Homo sapiens: one gene and its partner. The protein of the gene in region 1 purifies or fractionates together with the protein of each later gene. This does not show direct contact. Each region holds a gene or a part of one and is shown on either strand. Other genes may lie near its edges. The genes, in order: FAM163A and WDR47.

The links.
Region 2: the proteins of FAM163A (region 1) and WDR47 purify together in Homo sapiens (affinity purification with mass spectrometry; 2 studies listed by BioGRID and IntAct, with this or other methods). This does not show direct contact.

Annotation. Positions count from the first base shown.
Region 1 is NC_000001.11:179,737,613-179,748,867, forward strand, and holds the start of FAM163A (protein FAM163A), read left to right. Parts: upstream 1-5,678; 5' UTR 5,679-5,811; exon of another isoform or gene 5,812-5,954; intron 5,955-11,255.
Region 2 is NC_000001.11:109,036,984-109,048,847, reverse strand, and holds the start of WDR47 (WD repeat-containing protein 47), read left to right. Parts: upstream 1-6,745; 5' UTR 6,746-6,986; exon of another isoform or gene 6,987-7,328; intron 7,329-7,875; exon of another isoform or gene 7,876-7,898; intron 7,899-7,922; exon of another isoform or gene 7,923-7,980; intron 7,981-11,864.

The DNA of each region.
Region 1 (11,255 bases):
ATCACAAGGTCAGGAGATCAAGACCATCGTGGCTAACACGGTGAAACTCCGTCTCTACTAAAAATACAAAAAATTAGCTGGGCGTGGTGGCAGGCGCCTGTAGTCCCAGCTACTCGGGAGGCTGAGGCAGGAGAATGGCATGAACCTGGGAGGCAGAGCTTGCAGAGAGTGGAGATCGCACCACTACACTCCAGCCTGGGCAACACAGTGAGACTCTGTCTCAAAAAAAAAAAAAATCCTTAAAAAGCGAAGAGATGCAAGGAAACTTTTAGAGGTGATGCCTATGTGTATCACCTTGATTTGTAGTGATGGTTTCGCAGTATGTCCAAACTCATTAGATTGAATACGTTAAATAGGTGCAGTTTACATGGATGAGCTTGGAGGACATTAGGTTAAGTTAAATAAGCCAGGCACAGAGTGATAAATCTGCATGTTCTTGGCACATGTGGAATCTATAAAAGTTGGTATCATAGAAGTGGAGAGGAAGGGAAGGGGAATAGGGAGAGGGGATGACCAAAGGCTGGTTAACAGATACAAAAGTACAGCTAAGTAGAAGGCATAAATTCTAGTGCTCTGTAGCACTTTAGGGTGAGAATTAATTGTATATTTTCAAATAGCTAGAAGAGTGGATTTTGAATGTTCCCAACACAAAGAAATGATAAATGTGTGAGGTGATGTATTTGCTAATTACCCTGATTTGATCATTGCACATTATATACTTGTATCAAAGTATCACATTGTACTCCATGAATATGTACAATTATTACATGTCAATTTAAAATAATAATAAAAGCAAAAATATCACAAAAATATGTAGTTTTTTGTATCAATTATACCTCAATAAAGCTGTGTTTAAAAAATCTAAAAACCAAGAATTTAGCAATATGTGAAAAGATTTATACACTTTGACCAAGTAGGCTTTATTCCAGGAATGCAAAGCTGGTTCAACTTTCAAAAATCAATGCAATCCACCATATTAAAAGGCTAAAAAAAGAAAAAATCACATGGCTATACAAACTAATGTAAAAGCATTTGACAAAATTCAACACCCATTTATGACAAAATTCTCAGAAAAATACAAATAGAAGGCAAATTAGATACCTATAGCTAATCTATAATTAATCATGAAAGACTGAATGCTTTCTCCCTAATTTATATCAAAATATCAATGAGAATTTTTGTATTAATAGATATAGAGGAGATTATTCTAATATTTAAACAGAAAGGCAAAGGAACTAGAAGAGCTAAAACAATTTTGAATAGAAGGAATAAAGTGGGCAGAATCAGACTACCCAGTTTCAAGATTTATTATATAGCTTCAGTAATCAAGACTGTATGGTATTGGTGGAGGGATAGACACATAGATCAATGGAATGGAATAGAGAATCCAAAAATAAACCCACACAACTATGCCCAGCTGATTCTTGACAAAGGTGCAAAAGCAATTAAATGGTTAACAAATGATGCCAGAGCAACTGGACCTTATTAGGCAAGAAGAAGAAGGAGAAGAAGGAGAAGGAGAAGGAGCTGCTCAACCTAGCCCTCACATCTTATACAAAAATTAACTTATGATGGATTACCAACAGAACATGAAACAGAAAAAAAAAAAATTGGAGAAAACCTTTGGGGTTTAGGGCTAGCCAGAAAGTTCTTAGTCTTGACACCAACAACATGCTCCATAATAGAAAAAATAGTAAAATTAGACCTTATCAAAATTTAAAAATTTCTCTACAAAGTGCATGTAAAGAGGATGAAAAGACTGGGGGAAAATACTTGCAAGCCACAGATCTGAAAAAGGACCAGGATCTAGACCAAGGTTGTCCAACTCATGGCCCACTGGCCACAAGCCTCCCAGGATGGTTTTGAATGCGGCCCAACACAAATTTTTAAACTTTCTTAAAACATTATGAGAATTGTTTTGTGATTTTTTTTTTAGCTCATCAGCTGTTGTTAGTGTTTTTTATTTTATATTTTATATGTGGCCCAAGGCAATTCTTCTTCTTCCAATGTGGCCCAGAGAAGCCAAAAGACTGGACACCCCTTATCTAGACTATATAGAGAACTCTGAAAATTCAACAGTCAAAAAGACAAAACAATCCAATTAGCAAATGACCAAAAGACGTAAACAGAGATTTCACCAAAGATTGCATATAGGTGGAAATAAGGATGGCAAGTAAGCACGAGCCCCTGAAGACGTCTGACATCAGTAGTCATTAGAGGAATGGAATTTAAAATCACAATGACACATCATTATACATGTATAAGAATGGGTGAAAGTTTTAAAATATTGACAACACCAAATCCTGCCAAGGTTGTGGAGAAGCTGGATCATTCATATGTTCCTTGTTGGGATGTAAAATGGTACAATTGCTCTAGAAAACAGGCTGGCAGTCTCTTTAACAACTAAGCATGTGACTACCATACGATCTAGCAATAGTTGCCCTGGGCATTTACCTTACAAACTAGAAATAGTTCTCCTGGGCATTTATCCCAGAGATATGAAAATGTATGCTCACTTGTAAACCTGTAAACAAATGTTTGTGGCAACTTTATTTGGTTTTTGTTGTTGTTGTTGTTGTTGTTGTTGAGACGTCTTGCTCTGTTCTCCCAAGCTGAAGTGCGGTGGTTCAATCCTAGCTTACTGCAGCCTCCAACTCCTGGGTTCAAGGGATCCTCCCCCTTTAGCCTCTTGTGTAGCTGGGACTTCAGGTGTGTGCAGCCACACCCAGCTAATTTTTCATTTTTTTATGTAGAGACAGGGTCTCACTATGTTGCCTAGCCAGTCTGGAACTACTGGGCTCAAGCAATCCTCCCACCTCAGCCAACTTAATTTGTAATACCCCTGAAACTGGGGAAAAAACCCTAAATGTCCTTCATTAAGTGAATGGTTAAACAAGCTGGTGGTACATGCATACCATGAAATACTACAAGAAAAAGGAACAAAATACTGATACAACAACCTGCAACTCAGGTTGCTGCGTGGGAAAAAATTCAAAAGGTTACATATATTGATACGAAAGGATACAAATGATTTCATTTAAATAACATTCTTGAAATCACAAAATGTACCATTTTACATTTTGGAAATGGGAAACAGGTAAGTGGTTTCAAGAGATTAGAGATGGGGAAGGATGCACAGGGGAAACAGGTGTGGCTACGAAAGGGCAATATGAGGGATCTTGCGGTGGTGGAAATGTTGTGTATCTTGACTGTGTCAATGTCAATATCCTAATTATGATATTTTACTATAGTTTTTGCAAGATATTACCAATGAGGGAAACTGGGTGAAGGGTACTTGCAATCTCTCTGTATTATTTCTTACAATTGCCTACAAATCTACAATTATCTCAAAATGAAAGTTCTAATTTAAAAAGCGACTCTTGATCAAAAGATACCATTAAATGAGTAGAAGATACTTGCAGTCTCTAACTGACCAAGGCATGGTAGCAGCTAGACTTTATAAACAGCTTTTATGAATCAATAAGAAAAAGTCAGCTCAAAAAAATGGGCAAACATTTGAACAGGCACTCAGAAAACAGAAAACTCAAGTAGCCTATAAACATATGTAGAAGTGCCCAATTTCATTGGTAATTAGGGATATGAAACGAAGATCACAGTGAGACACCATTACATCTCCGCCAGACTGGCAAAACATAAGAAGTCTAATAATATTATATTTTGGCAAGGATGCGGAGCAATGGCAATTACCGTACATCTCTGATGGGAGTCTAAATTTTGTGGCCACTTTGGAAAACAATTTGGCATGATCTAATAAAACTAAATATATGCATACCCTATAGTCCAGTAATTTCACCCCAAGGTATACATCCTAAAGATTGCACTTGCATACCAGGAGATATACACAAAAATGTCATTAGCAATAGCACTTGTAATAGCCCCAATGGGAAAAACCCAAATATCTAAAGTGCCAGAATGGACAAAGAAATTGTGATATGTCCATACAAGGGAATATTAAGTAGCAATGAAAATGAATGAACTACAACTACATGCCACAAAAGTAGATGACTCTTACAACCAAATGGAAGAAGAGGCCAGGCACACACAAAAATATGCATGCAATATTATTCAATTTATAGAAAGTTCAAAACCAAGCAAAACTAAACTGTAGTGGTTAGGGATACATTACAAATTGGTAGAAACTATAAAGATACGTAAGGAAGTAATTACCATAAAGTCAGGATAGTTGCTTTAGGGGGAAGGGAAGGACTTGTGGAAGGGAATTGGTGGAGCAGGGGAACCTCTGGGGTGGTAGCAATGACCTGGGTGGTGTTTGGTTTATGATTCATTAGGCTATGAAGGTACGTTGTTTTCACTTTTCTGTGTTACAGTTTATAACAAAATCACACGTCCTCTTCATATTTCATTGTTTTGCCTTTGAGATGAGGAAGAATGTAGGCACGAGCCTTAACTGTGCTGAGAAAAGACGGCACATGAAAATCTGAGCTCAAAATGTAAAACCTGTGAGTAGAGTTAGAGTAAAAAGTGGAGTGTGCTGCAACAACAGTAGACTTGCTGGAATGATGAGGTGGTGGCTTGCCTTGGGATTTTTGTTTTTTAACAGTGTATTAGGAATAATAAGGTTGCTCCAGGTGCTAAATTTCTTACTCCCCTTCTTTAGAAGTTGGACCTAGGCTGAGGGTCCACAGTTTTTAAATGTTTTGGAGTTTTCTGTTTTTGTTTTTCAAATGGATTCCCTGATCACCTTTGCCTTGAATCCCCAGAACTAACCTGCCTAAGAAGAGAGGAAAACTGTTGATGTAGTGGGAACGCTCCCTCCTCGAGCATTAACCGGGTTGACCCCACCCCTCTGTCCTCGCTGTCTTCAGTCCAATCAAGATCGGAAAGCAGGATCAAGAGAAAGATGATCAGACCGGAACAGGTAAACGTTCCATATAGAGATGCTTCGGAAGTGCGGAGAAGTGACAGCTTATCCCCTCTCAGGCCGTCATGTTCTCTCAGCAGACCCTCTGAATTACTGATGTCAGAACTTATTGGCTGGGCTACAGCACATAAGCAACTCCTAGAGTTTTAAGACATTAAAAGAAGGTGATTTCAGACAAGAAATCTAGCGCACCATTCAGGTTTCTCCTCGTGTCGAGGCATTGCTTCTCTCCCTTCCTGCCTCTTCCTGCCAGACTTCACCGTCACAGCTCTAATCACACCCTGACTGATCTGATCCCGCCCTGCCACGAGGCCCGGGTACCCCTCAGCGGCGGGGACATCCAGGTGTCCCTGGATTTCCAGGGCACAGTGCGGGCCGGAAATAGGAACACAGAGGAGCCCTTCGGGAGGCTCTCGAGGCAGTCTCTTTCCAGTGGATAGCGACACACCCTGGTCCCTAAGATTCTCATGCTCTCCGAATTTTCCGTCCTGGACCCGATCTGTAGGGCGCAAAGTCCCCTGTACTGAGGCGTTCCCAGGGCGCCCGCCTCCCGCGTTTACATTTCTTAGGCAAAAAGGCAGCGGAGCTAAGCAGGGGTGTTTGGAAGGCGCCCGTTGCGCTGTTTGACTGCGTGGCTTCACTTGGCCCGCGTGCATCAGCCTCTCTGGCGGGGGATTCTCCCCGGACTCCGGCCAGCGCCAATCAGGTCGCGCGGTACCTGCCCCCAGCCCTGGCCACCTGGAGGGGCGATGAGGCTCCACGCCCGGAGCAGGGCAGTCCTCGGAGCGCCGGGGAGGCCGCGGAGCCTCACGTGTGCCGCCCCAGCCGCTGGCGCCCGGAAGGACGCGCTGCGACCCCGTGGGAGCCGAACGCGGGAGTCGCTGCCCGAGCGGAGCTGCTCAGCCGCGGTAACGGGTCGGGGCCTCATCGTGCAGGGGAGCGAGCGGAGGGGCGGGGCGGGGCGCGGGCGGGCTGAGGAGCCGCCGGGCTCGGGCTCCGCGCGGGGATGTGTCTGGCCACCGCGTACTTTCGAGGGCGCCTCAACACCCGGGTAAGCGCGCCCCGGCTGCCTCCCTCTGCCCACCGCGCCGCCTTCAGCGTAGCAGTTCCCCACTGGGTCTGGGTCTGCGCCCTGGCTCTCCCTCTCCGCGCCAGGGGCCTCTCGCTCCGAGGGGCGCGGCGACTCGGGGGCATCTCCGGCCTCGTGGCCAGACCGCGGGTGGCGGTGCTCGCGCCTCGGGGCCGGACTTGCCGGGTCCCTGCCCCCGGGCCGTGCCGAAGGCGCTCTACTCAGCGTGTCTGCAGCGACCCGCTTCTCTGCGCTTTCAGCCGGGCCGGACCTCACGCGGACGCCGCTGCTGCTGCTGCGCCTCGCGCCCGCCGCCACCCGGGGAGCATGAGGCCGGGGCAGGGGACCCGGGTAGGGTGGGGGCCGACCGGCGGGGTCTGCTGGGCCAATGCGCCGCCGTCGGTCAGTGAGTCCGGATTCGTGCCGGCAACTGTGGGCAGCCTTGAGACCGGGGCTCGGTTTGCTGGTGATTTTTCCGAAGTTTTACAAAATAAAGAGGGCGAAGTGCCTTCGCGGCGCGGCGTGGGCATGCAGGCGGCAGGGCCTGTGGGAGCCGGCGTCTCGGCCAGCGAGTCTGGGGCCAGGACAGCGGGGGTAGGACGGAGAAGCCGGACGTGCCCGTGGGGCCGCGGTGTCCTTGCTCCCGAGGCCCCAGAGCGGGCGACCGCACTCCGATTCCAGAGGGCCCTGCGCGCTCAAGGCGCCGGCCACACGGAAGCCTCCGCCCCGCGGCCCAGAGGGGGGCCTGGCCAAGCAGAGAGCAGAGCGGGCAAGCAGAAGGCAGTGTGGGGACGAGGCCCGCATTGGGCTGCTGGGACCCCGCCACCCGGCCTGGCCTGGGTGGGGCGGGTAGAGGCCGAGAGCCGCGCGCCGGGGCCCTGGGTGGGTGGCATCCTGGTTCTCTGCGGCTCCGAAGGCCGCGAGGGAAGTCAGGGGTGCAGATCTGTTCCCTCGGTCAGCGCCCTTTGGCCGACACACACCAGCCGTGTTTTCCTGTCACACTGGGGGTTCCTTTCCTCTGAGTGGAACTGTGGGGCCCTGGAAGTTTGCTAGTCCTGGCAAGTTTGACGTGACGGGGACGCAGTCATCCAACCTGCAGGCGGAGGCCCGCAGGCACTTTCTCCTGTCATTTCGCCCACCTGGGCCCTCCCCCAGGGCGCCCAGGGGGCCCCATCCTGAGATTCCGAGGGGGCCGCAGCGTGGCTGGCAGGACCGACGTCTGCGCAGTTGCGTCTGTGTCCTGCTTGGTCCTCTAGCAGCTGAGCCAGACACATGTTTTATGTCGTGTGGGAGACAAACAATAACTGCGGGCTTCAATCCCGCATGTTCGCTTTGCCTAAGATTCGCTGGAGTCTGTGTCCTGAGGGGAAAGGCAGCTTTCCTTCTGCCCTAATGAAATACTTGCATGTAACAGACGTTCAGACCCTGAAAGAGGTGGACCCCGGGGAAGGAACAGTAAAGGTACATGCTCTGAAAACAGATTTTCTTAGCCTTCTCTAGGGAGGTTTCAGTTCCCATGCCTAAGAGAATCTAAACCAGCAGGTACAGACAGGGTCATGCTGGCGTCCAGAGGGGAAGTAATGTGTGGCTCTCGGAGGGTCCTGCTGGGGCATCAGGCAGATCGGCAGCGGCCCTGCCAGGGCTAGAGATCTGCATTCAGTGACCTCATCAGGCATACTGTTCTGGAAAGGCAAGGTGAGATGGGCTCGTGCAGATGAGAGCAGGTCCCCCTGTTTGGCCCAAGAATCTCTGTTTTTTCTCTAGCTTGCCGTCTGTAACTGGAAATGACCCCGGCTTAGTTCAGGGAGTGCTTCAGCCTGAGTGCAAACATCAGCTGGTAACAGGGGAGCCTGGCCCCAGCACAGTCCAGTCCTCACCCAGAGGCCCACGCTGGGATTTTCCTGATCTGCAAACTTTACAAGGCTGAGGTGGATGAGAGGAGAAGTTGGGAATCTTCTGGGTGGCCACTTAACAAAAAAGTCATTTGACTCTGGTAGGGCCATTCCAGGGTCTGTCCATTGTGAAAAGTGCCCTGGGGTTTAGAATCTGGCCTGGTGATTATTAACATTAATGAAAGTTGCTAACATTTATTAAGTACCTGCTATGTGCCAGACACAAGGTTTTGCAAAATTACTATTATTTCCCCATTTTTCGTGTGATGAAACTGAGTTTGGGGGTAGGGTAAACGATTTGCCAAGATCATAAAGCTAGTTAATGGCAGAGCAGAGCTTGAAGCCCAGGTCTCTTTGGTTCCAAAGTCACTACTCCTTCCTCGGGGCCACTTTCTTCCAATTAAGAACAGACACACATGTGGTAGCTGGAAATCCAGAATTGTCGTGAATAAAGACTCTTACTTGTAGATCCAAGAGATATTTATAACCCCATTAGACTCTAGACTTCAGAAAGTGCTGGCCTGGTAAACAGCCAGCACTTCCTTCTCTCTGTCACTCAAGGGTTTAACTCCTACACAAAGGACTAATTTCTTATTAAGTACAAATCTTTCAACTAGCAAACATCAAAGAGATAAACCGTTGATGAGGTTGTAGAAAAACAGGTACTTTCATATATTGCTGCTGGGAGAGTAAATTGGTACAACTTTGGAGGGCATTTTTGGAAACACTTGTCAAAATTATAAACGCCCATGCCATCTGACCTAGTGATTCCATTTTTAGGAATTGAACTTGTTGTTAAACTTGCATATGGGCACAAAGATATATGTACATTATAGCACTGTTCGAACTGTGAAAGAACAACTTACATGCTTATCAAAGGGGGACTTGTTAAGTGTCTTATGGTACTTCCAGAGAGTCAAATAGCGTCCTATTCATTCATGGAAAAAAGAATTAGTAAGTTTACTATATAACTGATATGGAATGATTTCCAAGATATATGGCTAAGTGGAAAAAACAACATGCCTGGAGTGTTTATAATATGCTGCTGCTCGTGTTATACAAGAGGAAGGAGAGTCTTAGGGTATTTGCTTGTCTGTGTATAACTATAGACACAAAACCTAATCATACCTGTTACCTCCAGGAAAAGTGGCCTGTAAACCCTTTTGTACCTTTTGAATTCTGAACCATGGGAATACGTTAACTATTTTAAAATTCTCTTTGTCCGTCCTGTGCCTGGTATGTTCCCTCAAACACTTTTCCAGCTTAACATTGTGGGGTGACGTACCCCACCCCCTTTTGGTTGCTTGAGAGGTTCCCTTTGGATTAAAAGCCAAAGGGCTGTGAGACTGCACAGTGCCCATAGTATCTGGGCCATCCAGTATTCCTTTGAAATATACAGAGTTGTACTTGGAAAGCTGGGGAGAGGTGTCTTTGGACAGCAGGCTCTCTGAGCTGGGTAGGCAAGTTATGATCATCCAGCCTTGAAAACAATCTGCAGAAATAGAAACCACCCCTTTCTCTATTGCCCTAATGTTCCCTTGTACAGGATAAAGTGTCAGCGACTGGATAGGATTGGGTAAAGGAGCAAGAGGAACACTGTGACTGGACATCAGAAAGGGCAAAAGATACGTAGGAGGGCTATTTCTGGTGTTGCATTTGGACCTCAAAAAGGTGAAGAGAGAGATGCTTGGAAAAAAAAAAAAAAGGTTTGACATTATCCTAGAGTCTAGGGCTGTATTGCCCCAGAGAAAGAAGGAAGATTATTGGCGCAGTTGTCACTGCATCAATCAGTGTGTCCTACATGCCCCTTTGAGCATTTCTTATCAGCACAGATGCCCGGCTCAGTTCCCCCTACTTCCAAGCACCCATTTTTGCTGATCCCTCAGCCTGGAAGCCGATGGATACACAAAGGGGATGGGGGAGATATTAGGTACTGCCTTTCTTTTTGGGGTGGGTGATGGGACAGGCTGTTGAATAGCAGAAACAATGGAAGAAGGACTTGCTTCCAGCCACAAAAGATGGGTCCTCCAACACCATTAGGTGGAAAGCCTTCATTGAGAGCTTTCTATGTTTCAGTCACTCTGCTAAGCCTACACTATTTCATTGAATCTCTTTATCTCGGGTATATGTGAGAGCCCAGGCTCTTTGGTATCAAGCAGCATGTCTTTCTGCTCTCCCTTCACTGACTTTTCCATTCTCTACGCAGTAAGCTGCAGCACAGGCGCAACTGCATCACATGGGTGCTTACAGACCTGGTTTTGGGTTATAACAGTATGTGGCTGAGCATTGCATGCTTTGATGGATCAGTTGAAATTTCTGCAGTATGGATAGATTTGTACAAGGCACAGTTCAGAAACAAAGCAGTCAGTGTTCTGGGTTTGGATTTCCATTTCTCTTATTTCTGTTTCTGTGTGTGCATTAGGGCTGGGGCTGAGTAGACTGTGCATGTGATGTTCCTAGGGAAAGGGGGAGGAGGGGGAGGGGGAGGGGGAGGAGGAAGAGGACTAGGAGGAGGGCAGCTTCTCATTGCTTTGGTCCAGACACCAGTGGTGTGGAAGGCTGTGAAGATGAGCTTGTGAGGCCCTGTGTCTGCACCCAAGGAGAAAGGTCAGCAAGGTGGCCACTAAGCCCCAAGTCTGTGCTGGGAGTCTGTCTGTTGTTTGGAAAAAACAGCCTGAGACCTGAGAGCCTCTCTCATTGCAAACCTCCTCCCTCTCATTAGCCAGGGCTCACCTCTGACTCCGTTTCCACTTCAAAAGGAAACAGCTCTAATTTTCCCCAAATAAATTCTGGAACGCACAAGGCAGCTGCTTTTTCTTGTGCTGCTGTTGCCCACAGTGGTGGGAGCAAGAAGCTGGGTTGGGCTCTCAGGTAGGGCTGCCAGAACCCAGCAAGGAGAGGTAAAGTCAGGGAGCCCTATTAGTTTTTAAAAAAAATCACCTTAGGCCAAAAATAAAGATGTTTACATAGTATACAAGTAGTGGAGGACCAGTTTAACCACATCAAATTCAGAAAATGTCTGTTGTCAAAGCCCTGAGAACACAGAAGGATGAGCAAGGCATGGCCCCCAGGTTCAGGTTGCCCACGGGCAGTGCGGGAGAGGAACATTCACATCACCAGCAGTACTCTGCAGACTAAAGAAGCAAACACTAAGTAGAGGAGCAAGTGACATGCTGTCAGGTGCACAGGGCTAAAGTGAAGCAGAGACTGGCCCAAGGAACTCTGATAAATTATTAAGTCCGTCTTGGAGAAGGTGATTTTTGAACTGGGCCTTGAAGGTAAAGTAGTGATTTTGATACATAAGCTCAGGAGAAAGGGTGGAACTCAGACAACAGGTTGGGCAAAGACACAGGGTTACAGTAGAATACAGAGTGTTTTAAAAAGCCTTAGT
Region 2 (11,864 bases), about 71 Mb from region 1:
CTAGGTGAGACTCCCTCTCAAAGATAAGAAATCATACTAATGTGGTAGAATAGAAAAAGAAAGTTTTAAGAGTCAGAATGTCTCTGCTACATACTAGCTGTGTGACCTTGGGCAAGTTATTTTCTTTAATCACTCAAATAGGAATAATTAATAGGTGTTTTAAGGGAGATTATGAGGCTTAAATGAGAACATAAGCAAAGCATTTCATTTTGTGTTCAATGAATGCCAAAGCCAATCTAATACTTCACTGGGGTTTTCCTTCCTTCCTTCCTTTCTTTTCTTTCCCTTCCTTCTTTCCTTCCTTCCTTCCTTCTCTCCTTCCTTCCTTCCTTTTCTTTCCCTTCCTTCCCCCCTCCGTCCCTCCCTCCCTTCTTTCCTTTTCTTTCCCTTCCTTCCCTCCTCCCTCCCTCCCTCACTCCCTCCCTCCCTCCCTCCCTTCCTTCCTTCCTTCCTTCTGATGTAACTGTGGCAGTCTTATATTTGCAACTCAAGAAGGAATCAACTGCGTTCCAAAACAGCTAAATATGCAGGTCACCCAAAAAAGGTTTTGTTTGTTTGTTTGTTTGTTTTGAGACAGAGTCTCACTCTGTCTCCCAGTCTGGAGTGCAGTGGTACGATCTCGGCTCACTGCTGCAATCTCTGCCTCCCAGGTTCAAGCAATTCTCCTACCTCAGCCTTCTGAGTAGCTGGTATTACAGGCGCCCACCACCACTCCCAGCTAATTTTTGTATTTTTAGTAGAGATGGGGTCTCATCACGTTGGCCAAGCTGGTCTCGAACTCCTGACCTCAAATGATCCACCCGCCTAAGCCTCCCAAAGTGCTGGGATTACAGGTGTGAGCCATGGCGCCTGGCCATGAAGGTATTATTATTATTATTATTATTATTATTATTGTTATTATTATTGAGACAGAGTCTCTCTGTGTTGCCCAAACTGGAGCGCAGTGGTGCAATCTCGGCTCACTGCAACTTCTGCCTCCCGGGTTCAAGCGATTCTCCTGCCTCAGCATCCTGAGTAGCTGGGATTACAGGCGCCTAACACCACGCCTGGCTAATTTTTGTATTATTAATAGAGATGGGATTTCACCATGTTGGTCAGGCTGGTCTCAAACTCCTGACCTCGTGATCTGCCCACCTCGGCCTCCCAAAGTGTTGGGATTACAGGCATGAGCCACTGCGCCTGGCACAGGTATTTTTTAAACTGCCACATTCACTCCGAAGCCCATTCATCTCCTTCAGCATCCCACAGATGAAGCACATGTTCCGCTTAGCTTGATAACAAGGTGAGGCACACTTTGCACTGCTGACGTCACAGGAAAGCTGTCTATAAAACTATACTTCTGATACTGGGCTCCAGCTTTGTTCTCACAGGTAATCATCCTCATCCAGGAGAGCAGCTGTCTGAGCAAACTCTAACTCATGCTCTTATTGCTCTGTCAAAGCTGGGTCCATGACAACCTCAGGTAGGGGAGTACAGGGTAGCAAACCCCAAGTTAGGGCCTCCAATGAGCTTCCTAGCAAGCCAGAGAAAGGGCTTTTCAAAGTTGTAGTTAGTTTTGGCAGTAATGTCATAGTACTGAAGATTCTTCTTTCGGTGGAAGACAATAGATTTTGCCTTCACTTACCTGTCCTTAATATCCACTTTGTTGCCACACAACATCATGGTGATGATTTCACACATTGGCACCAAATCTCTATGCCAGTTAGGCACATTCTTGTACGTAACTCTTGGTGTTACATCAAACATTATGATGGCACACTGGGCTATGGGTTCGATGTAATAACCATCTCTGTTCACCACATTTCTCCTGGCCGGCTGTATCCCATTTATTGAACTTAATACATCTTCTGTTGGTGTGGAACACTTGGGTGATGAACCTCAACACCCATACCTCTCAAATGTGGCTACATACCTCTCAAATTCACCAGTCAAATGATGTTTCACCAAAGTAGTTTTTCCAGTACCACCGCCACCAACCAATACAAGTTTGAACTAGACCTGGGGCTCTCCCTGGGCAGCCATCATGGTGTTCCTTCCAGAAGTGTCTCCTGCCCGTTGGACTGAGTGGTTCTTCTGTTTTTCAAGCACTCTCCCTAGCAGGTGATCGGTTGTTTGTCAGATTGTCCCTGATTAGTTACTCTTTCTAGAGCTAGTAGAAGATTTAAATATTTAAAGGATGCTGGGCTGGGCACGATGGTTCATGCCTGTAATCCTAGCTCTTCGGGAGGCCAAGGGGAAAGGATCATTTTAGCACCAGCCTGGGCAACAAGGCAAAACCCTGTCTCTACTTAAAAAAAAAAAAAAAAAAAATTAGCCAGGCATGGTGGCTTGCACCTGTAGTCTCAGCTACTGGGCTGGGGAAGCGGAGGTGGAAGGATCGCTTGAGCCCAGGAGTTCTAGGCTGCAGAGAGCCATGACTGCCCTACTACACTCCAGCCTGGGCGACAGAGTGAGACACTGTCACAAAAAACAAACAAACAAACAAACAAAAACCCTCTAGAATTCTATGATTCTGACCCAATAATTAATTATTAACGATTTGTTAATAAATGTAATTAATTCCTAGCTGGGCACGGTGGCTCACATCTGTAATCCCAGCACTTTGGGAGACTGAGGTGGATGGATCACTTGAGGTCAGGAGTTCGAGACCAACCTGGCCAACATGGTTATACCCATTCTCTACTAAAAATACAAAAATTAGTTGGGTGTGGTGGCATGGGCCTGTAATCCCATCTATTCGGGAGGCTGAGAAAGGAGAATTGCTTGAACCCGGGAGGCAGAGGTTGCAGTGAGCTGAGATCGCCCCACTGCACTCCAGCCTGGGCGACAGAGCAATACTGTCTCAAAAAACAAAAAAAAAAAAAAAGAAAGAAAATGTAATTAATTCCTAAAGTTTCAGAATATGGGTCCATGGGGAAAAGGTTCTAACTGATAAAAATGTGGGAAATGGGATAAAAAATGAAGTTAAAAAAAAAAGGATACTGGTTCTCAAAACTTCTTGTTTGATCATAAAGATTTAGAAGTGGTTTCTTAGATGAACTATACTAGCAAAATAATTGAGATACTACTTTCAGGAAAAACGTATCTGCCTACTTTTTCAATTTAAACACTCTGTAATGTGTTGTTTGTTTGCTTGTTTTGTTTTCAATATCAAGATCCTGGGTAACATTCAATTATGTTTATATTTATTTGCCTGTCACTTATCATTAAGAGGGTTCATAATGAAGACTTTCTTCCAGGAGTTACTGACTAGGCAATTGAAATTTTGTAGTTCAGCTTTTGTGTGTTGTTTTCTCTGAATGCATAAGTATTTTTCTTAGAAATGTTTCCTCGGCTGGGTGCAGTAGCTCATGCCTGTAATCCCAGCACTTTGGGAGGCCATGGCGGGAGGATCACTTGAGGTCAGGGGTTTGAGACCAGCCTGGCCAACATGGTGAAACTTCGTCTCTACTAAAAATACAAAAATTAGCCGAGTGTGGTGGCACACAAATTAGCTGAGTGTGGTGGCACCTGCCTGTAATCTCAGCTACTCAGGGGGCTGAGGCAGAATTGCTTGAACCCAGGAGGCAGAGGTTGCAGTGAGCTGAGATTGCGCCATGTACTCCAGCCTGGGTGACAGAGTGACTCCGTCTCAAAAAAAAAAGAAAGCCAGGCACAGTGGCTTATGCCTGTAATCCCCAGGACTTTGGGAGGCCAAGGCAGGCAGGCGGATCACGAGGTCGAGACCAGCCTGACCAACATGGTGAAACCCTGTCTCTACTAAAAATACAAAAACTAGCTGGGCATGGTGGTGTATGCTGTAGTCCCAGCTACTCTGGGGGCTGATGCAGGAGAGTCGCTTGAACCCAGGAGGAGGAGGTTCAGAGTGCCAAGATCGCACCACTGCACTCCAGCCTGGGCGACACAGTGAGACCCCATCTCAAAAAAAAAAAAAAAAAAAGGAAAAAAAGAAAAGAAAAGAAAAAAAAGAAATGTGTATCTTCAAGCTCTCGCTTCTTTTATCTTGAACTGGACAAGATTTTGTATTCCCAGAAATATGGTTTAAATTTTGTTTATTTTTAATTTTTATAGTTACATAATAGTTGTAGATATTTCTGGAGTAAATACAATGTGTAATGATCAAATCTGGGTAATTGGGATATCCATCACCTTAGAAATGCATTATTATTATTAAGACACAGGGTCTTACTCAGTCACCCAGGCTGGAGTGCAGTAGTGTGATTATAGCTCATGGTAGCCTCGGACTTTGAGCTCAAACTATCTTCTCACTTCAGCCTCTCAAGTAGCTAGGACTGCAGGTGTGTCTCACCGTGTCTAATTTTTTATTCTTGTTTTTGTAGAGAGGGAGTCTCACTATGTTGCCTAGGCTAGTCTCTAACTCATGGCCTCATGTGAGCCTCTGGCCTAAGCCTCCCAAAGTGCTGGGATTTCAGGCATGAGCCACTGTGCCCACCCATTTATTATTTCTTTTCTTTTTTTTTGAGACGCGGTCTCGCTCTGTCACCAGGCTGGAGTGCAGTGGCCCAATCTCGGCTCACTGCAACCTCCGCCTCCCGGGTTCAAGTGATTCTCCTGCCTCAGACTCCCGAGTAGCTGGGACTACAGGCGCACACCACCACACTCGGCTAATTTTTGTATTTTTAGTAGAGACAGGGTTTCACCATGTTGGCCAGGATGGTCTCGATCTCTTGACCTCTTGACCTCGTGATCTGCCCGCCTCGGCCTCCCAAAGTGCTGAGATTACAGGCATAAGCCACCACGCTTGGCCTGCCATTTACTATTTCTTTGTGTTGGGAACATTCTGAATCTTCTCTTCTAGCTGTTTGGAAATATAGAATAGATTATTGTTAACTATAGTCACCCAATTATGCTATTGAGCACTAGAATTTATTCCTGCTACATAACTGTATTTTTGTACCCATTAACCTCTTTATCCCCCCTTTGCCCTCCACTACACTTTCTAGCCTCTGGTAACCACCATTCTATTCACTACCTCCACGAGATCAATTCTTTTAGTTCCCACATATGTGTGAGAACGTGCAATATTTGTCTTTTTGTGCTTGTCTTGTTTCACTTAACATAATGTCCTCCCGTCCCATCCATGTTGCTGCAAATGACAGGATTTCATTCTTTCTTAATGGGTGAATAAGATTGTATTGTGTGGCCGGGCGCGGTGGCTCACGCCTGTAATCCCAGCACTTTGGGAGGCCGAGGCGGGTGGATCACGAGGTCAGGAGATCAAGACCATCCTGGCTAACACGGTGAAACCCCGTTTCTAATAAAAATACAAAAAAAAAAAAAAAAATTAGCCGGACCTGGTGGCGGGCGCCTGTAGTCCCAGCTACGCGGGAGGCTGAGGCAGGAGAATGGCGTGAACCCGGGAGGCGGAGTTTGCAGTGAGTCGAGATGGCGCCACTGCACTCCAGCCTGGGCGACAGAGCGAGACTCCGTCTCAAAAAAAAAAAAAAAAAAAAAAGATTGCATTGTGTATATGTACCACATTTTCTTTATCCATTTGTCTGTTGATTGACATAGGTTGATTCTATATTTTGGCTATTGTGAATAGTACTGCAATAAGCATGGGAGTGCCAGAAATATTTTTGATGTTTATTCTCTTTACCAGACTGTTACCCCATTTTCCCCTTTTGGGAGGTCCAGCTCACTCTGGACTTTCGCCTCTGTGAGGATGATGTTCTTTTTTCTGTGAGACGGAGTCTCTCGCTCTGTCACCCAGGCCGGAGTGCAGTGGCATGATCTCGGCTCACTGCAACCTCCGTCTCCCAGGTTGAAGCGATTCTCCTGCCTCAGCCTACCAAGTAGCTGTGATTACAGGAGGCTTGCCAGCACACCCGGCTAATTTTTGTATTTTTAGTAGAGACGGGGTTTCACCATGTTGGCCAGGCTGGTCTCAAACTCCTGACCTCAGGTGATCCGCCCGCCTCGGCCTCCTAAAGTGCTGGAATTGCAGGCGTGAGCCACCGCGCCTGGCCGAGAATGATGTTCTTACAGGTTTGTGTAATTGTATTCTTCCTTATGGTTATACTTCCTGGATGCTTAATTAAGCTCGGTTGAACATCACGTATATTTGTGGAATAAGGGGCTTACAACCAACAGGAGTAGACAAAACCTGAACATATTAAATGTTAAGTAACTGAAAAATGCTTTCAAGGCAGATCAGCTTTGCAAAATGAGAAACCAGGAAGGGGACAAACAAACTACTGGAGTTTTCTGGGACGAAGTGGGACCTAGGAAAGCAGCGAAAGAAGGGTAGAAGGCAACATTAATTTCATTAACCTTTATTAATTATCGGGGAGGAGTATGAAGAGTCAATCCTAATGCGCAGTCTTCTCCATTTGCAGGCGACAATCCTGTTCGTGCTATTTTGGGACATGGGGTCACCGGCCAGCTAAGGGTCTACGTCCCTGCCACCAGTCTCACGCTATTGCCGCACCCGTTCTGCTACTCCCCCGGGCCCCTAGCCGGTCCCTCCAAGCCCGACCCCCGCCCGCCCCGCCCAGGCTTTGGTCCGCCCCGCCCAGGCTTTGGTCCGCCCCGCCCCTCCCCGCCCCAGCTTTGGGCCCGCCCCTCCACGCCCCTCCCCGCCCCGCCCCGCCCCGCCGACTCGCCCTTCGGCTCAGGCACCTGCCTGGCCGCCCCGCGCGGCGGGGTCCTGAGGCGCCTCGGGGAAGCGCGGCGATTGGCTGCCGCTCGCGGGTAGAGCTCGGCTCCCCGGCACTTGACAACCGCAGTCTGCAAGAGGCTGAGCTGAGGAGTCGCTGGGCCGGGAGGGGCGGACGTGAGAAGGACGGATTGACGAACTGATGGATTGACGCGCGGGCGGTAGGAGGGAGGACCGACGCCAAACCCAGACCGCCGCCGTCGTGCTCCTGCCGCAGCCCGGAGCCGGCCGCTTCGGGGCCCTGGCCGCCGGCCTCCCAGCCGCGTTCTCCTCCGCCGCTCCTCCGGGCTTGCCCTGGAGCCCTCAGGTGGGTGACTCCGGGAGTCGGAGGCTGGGTCGGTCCGCTGCACACCTCGGGTTGCCATGGTCACCCGTCGCCTCCTGTCACCACCTGACACGGCTCCGACCGGGCGGCCCCGAGGACTGTGTTTGCGGCCCCGGAGAGGGGTCTTTAGTGGGCTTGGGTGCCGACTGGGAGGGGGCTGGGGTCGTGGGTGAGGCCCCAGCATCGCGGGGTGAGGATCTGCGAACTGCTGGGCCCCGGTTCGAGGTCACCGGTCCTGGACCACACCTTTCCCACATTACCAGTTGGATTCTGGGGGCAGAGCGACGCCCCTCGCCCTGGCACTGAGCAGCAAGTGAGCGCGAGGTTCGTGCCCATCTCGCCGCTGCGCCGATTCTTCCTTCCTCGCCCCTTGGTCGAGCCCGTGCGAGAACTGAGGGGCGCGCTCGCGTCCCTTTCTGGGCACGCCTTGGCCCGGAGGAAGAGAGGGAGCGGCGGGGCTGGGAGCCCCGCTGGGGCCGGTTTTGGCCTTTCTCACATCAATGGTCGGGATGGGAGCAGGCCTTTGGGGATCTGGGTGTGGTCGCGGAAAGGGGCAGCGACTCGATTTAGAACTGGGATTGCGCTGGAGGGGCGCCTGCGTAGAAGAACGCAAGGTTGTGGAACTCAAAGGGTTAAACCGCTTCCCTTTATTGGGGAGAAAAATATTGGAACTCTAGCTCTGGGGCGAGGCCATGGGCAAAGGGGGCGGGGGCGGGGGGCGAGGGTAGGCCGGGGCGGCATTTGGGCTTTTGACCAGATGATTTTTCCTTCTCTGTACCCAGACGTGCAGTTAGTAACCGTGCATGGTATCTGAGGGGACCGTTTTTTTTTTTTGGCAACTTGGTTTTCTCTGCATAATGAAAGGAGAAGTCTTTGTTCCACCCAGATTCGTAGGTTGTGATCCTAATACTTATTTCTCTCTTTGTTGGAGACTCTGTAGAATGCCTCAAAAAGTTAATGGCACAGAAATGAACATGTAGGTTTAAAAAATGCTATAAATCTTTTTTTCACAGTAAATTCAAGTAGAATTTTTTTGTCTCCAGTGTTGGCATATGTTGCATTGGCATTTTACTAAGAAGGAGAAACGCCTAAGAGCCCATTTTCCTTTATATGGCATATTGTCGAGGTCTCATTTAGGAAGAAGATGAAATGAATAATTCTACTTTAGGTTTGGGAGATTAGGAGAGATTGCTTCCAATAGGAAAGAAACATTATTACACGGTAATGGAAAAGTCAAGTCACAACAGTATATTGTTAGGTAAAAAAGCCAAAACCCAAACACTTGAATTTGGATGCCATTATGAAGATGTAAATTTTTTTTTTTTTTTGGACGGGATTTTAACCTGTGTTTATCTCCCACTGGTCCACTTCCTGGTTCTTTTCTCCCTCGCCTTAAAAACCAGTACTGTTAAGAATGTGTCATAAGAGAACAGGGGTACTATCCTATGTTACTACTTACATAATGGTGTTCAACCTCTTTTCCTGTTTGTGAAATAGAATATATTAGTTATTTAATGGGCGGCATATGAAATGCTTAATGTATGCTGCAGTTTCAGAAACGCTTTAGTTATGAAAAGATGTGCAGTTTTCCTTAGTAGATCAGTAAGCTGAAAAATCAGATTACCTGTATTTAAGCTTTCTTTTGCTACTGATTGCATTCTTGTAAGAGCTGCTAAGCTTAACATTGACTGATTTCTCATTCTGTAAAATGGTGATGCTTGCTATTGTTTTAGTCTGAGAATGGGCTTTGAGTTGAAAGCACTTTGGAAGGCATCTGTTGATTACCTTTTTTTTTTTTTTTTTTTTTTGAGACGGAGTCTCACTCTGTCATCCAGGCTGGAGTTCAGTGGCATGATCTCGGCTCACTGCAGCCTCTGCCTCCTGGGTTCAAGCGATTCTCCTGCCTCAGCCTCCCAAGTAGCTGGGATTACAGGTGCCTGCCACCACGCCCGGCTACTTTTTGTATTTTTAGTAGAGATGGGGTTTCACCATGTTGGCTAGGCTGGTCTCGAACTCCTAGCCTCAGGTGATCCACCCGCCTTGGGCTCGCAATGTTGGGATTACAAGCTTGAGCCACCGTGCCTGACCCTGTATATTATTTTTGAACAGAAGACTTGAACCCAGGTCTTCAGACTCCAAATCCAATGCTGGCCCACACCTGAGGATACTTCAGTTTTGAGACTATTACACCGAATAGCCAAAGCTTGCATATTTCAACTAATTTTTCTCTATGTTGAGTTTGTTTCTGTTCAAGTGAAAAGATATCCTTAAAAAAGGGTTTATACCGGCTGGGCGTGGTGGCTTGTGCCAGTAATCCCAGCACTTTGGGAGGCCAAAGCGGGCGGATCACGTGAGGTCAGGAGTTTGAGACCAGCCTGGGCAACATGGTGAAACCCTGTCTTTATCAAAAATATAAAAATTAACTGGGCATGGTGGCGTGTGCCTGTAATCCCAGCTATTTGGGAGGCTGAGGTAGGAGAATTGCTTGAACACAGGAGGCAGAGGTTGCAGTGAGCCAAGATCATGCATGCCACTGCACTCCAGCCTGGGCGACAAAGCGAGATTCCACCTCAAAAAGAAAAAAAAAAAGGATTTATACCACACACTCCCTTAAAACCTTTCTTTTGTGTTCTATAGTCTTATTCACTGTAATAGCTCGATCATTGTATCCCAGTTTGTAGCATGTTGTTAATACATAGTAAATGCTCATCACTCATTACCCACCTGAACTTCTCCTGTTTAAATGGCTTCAGATGAATATTATCACAAGTAGGAGTTTCTTCATATAGTATGTTTAACATAATTGATCTCAGTGAACTTTCCAATATTTATTTATTTATTTATTTATTATTATTGTTATTATTTGAGATGGGGTCTCGCTCTGTTGCCTAGGCTGGAGTGCAGTGGCGTGATCTCGGCTCACTGCAACCTCCGCCTCCCAAGTTCAAGTGATTCTCCTGCCTCAGCCTCCCAAGTAGCTGGGATTGCAGGTGCACATACCCCCACACTTGACTAATTTTTGTATTTTTAGTAGAGACAGGGTTTCACCATGTTGGCCAGGCTGGTCTTGAATGCCTGACCTCAAGTGATCCACCCAGTTCGGCCTCCCAAAGTGTTGTGATTACAGGCGTGAGCCACTGCACCTGGCCTGTTTATTTATTTTTTGAGACAGGGTCTCACTTTATCGTTCAGGCTGCAGTACAGTGGCATGATGATAGCCCACTGCAGCCTCAAACTCCTGGGCTCAAGTGATCCTCCTACCTCAGCCTCCCGAGTAGCTAGGACTACAGGTGCTTGCCACCACACCTGGCTAATTTTTGTATTTTTTGTAGAGATAGGGTTTTGCCATGTTGCCCAGGCTGGTGTTGAACTCCTAGACTCAAGTGACCTGCCTGCCTTGGCTTCCCAAAGTGCTGGGATTACAGGCATGAGCCACTGCACCTGGCTCGATATTTTTTAAATTACTGAAATATTTTCAAAAATAAGTAAGCTTATTCCAAAGTAAATTTTTATACTTCACAGCACAGTAGCTCTCCCGCAGCAATTCATTAGCAGTCCTTTTGACACATTGTCCTTACCAAGGCTAGGAGCTCTGAAGGGAAGGAATTTACATTTATTGAGCACCAGTTGCATGCTTGCCACTCTGCTAGGAGCTTGTTCTCATTTTACAAGTCAACATCCTGTTTTAACTGAGAAATAGTACTGGGCTGGGCGAGGTGGCTCATACCTGTAATGCGAGCATTTTGGGAGGATGAGGTGGGAGGATTGCTTGAGCCCAGACGTTTGAGACCAGCCTGGGCAACATAGTGAGACCTCATGTCTACAAACAATTAAAAAAAAAATGCTAGCTGAGTGTGGTGGTGCACACCTGTGGTCCTAGCTACTGGGGAGGCTGAGGTGAGAGAATCACTTGAGCCTGGGTGGACAAGGCTCTACCAGCCTGGGAGACAGTGAGACCCAGTCTCAAAGAGAGAGAAAGAAAGAAAGATAGAAAAAAATAGTACTACAAGCAAAAAGACATAAAAATTTTATACTATTTATAATTACTAGTTATGTAGTATGCTTGACATATGTAACTCAAATAATGTTTTTTTCCTATGGCTAAGTACCATGTTTTGTGACTCTTGTTGTTGTGATGAAAAAGAAAATGGAACCTTTTATAAAATCTTTTGAGAAAATTTTATAGAATTGGGTTGGTTTTTTTTTTTTTTTTTTTTGAGACGAGGTCTCGCTCTGTCCCCCAGGCTGGAGTGCAGTGGTGCGATCTCAGCTCACTGCAAGCTCCGCCTCCCAGGTTCATGCCATTCTCCTGCCTCAGCCTCTCTGAGTAGCTGGGATTACAGGCGCCCGCCACCAAGCCCGGCTAATTTTTTATATTTTTAGTAGAGACAGGGTTTCACTGTGGTCTCGATCTCCTGACCTCGTGATCTGCCCACCTCGGCCTCCCAAAGTGCTGGGATTACAAGCGTGAGCCACCACGCCCAGTCTTGTTTTGTTTTTTGTTTTTTTTTTTTTAGACGGAGTTTTGCTCTTGTTGCCCAGGCTGGAGTGTGATGGCGTGATGTCGGCTCACCGCAACCTCTGCCTTCCAGGTTCAAGTGATTCTCCTGCCTCAGCCTCCCTAGTAGCTGGGATTACCGGCATGTGCCACCACGCCTGGCTAATTTTGTATTTTTGGTAGAGACGGGGTTTCTCCATGTTGGTCAGGCTGGTCTTGAACTCCCAACCTCAGGTGATCTGCCTGCCTCGGCCTCCCAAAGTGCTGGGATTACAGGCGTGAGCCACCGCACCTGGCGATTTTCTTTGAAACTTTAAGAAGAGCTTTGGAAATGAAATTCCGGGAAGTGCAAAAACAGCATT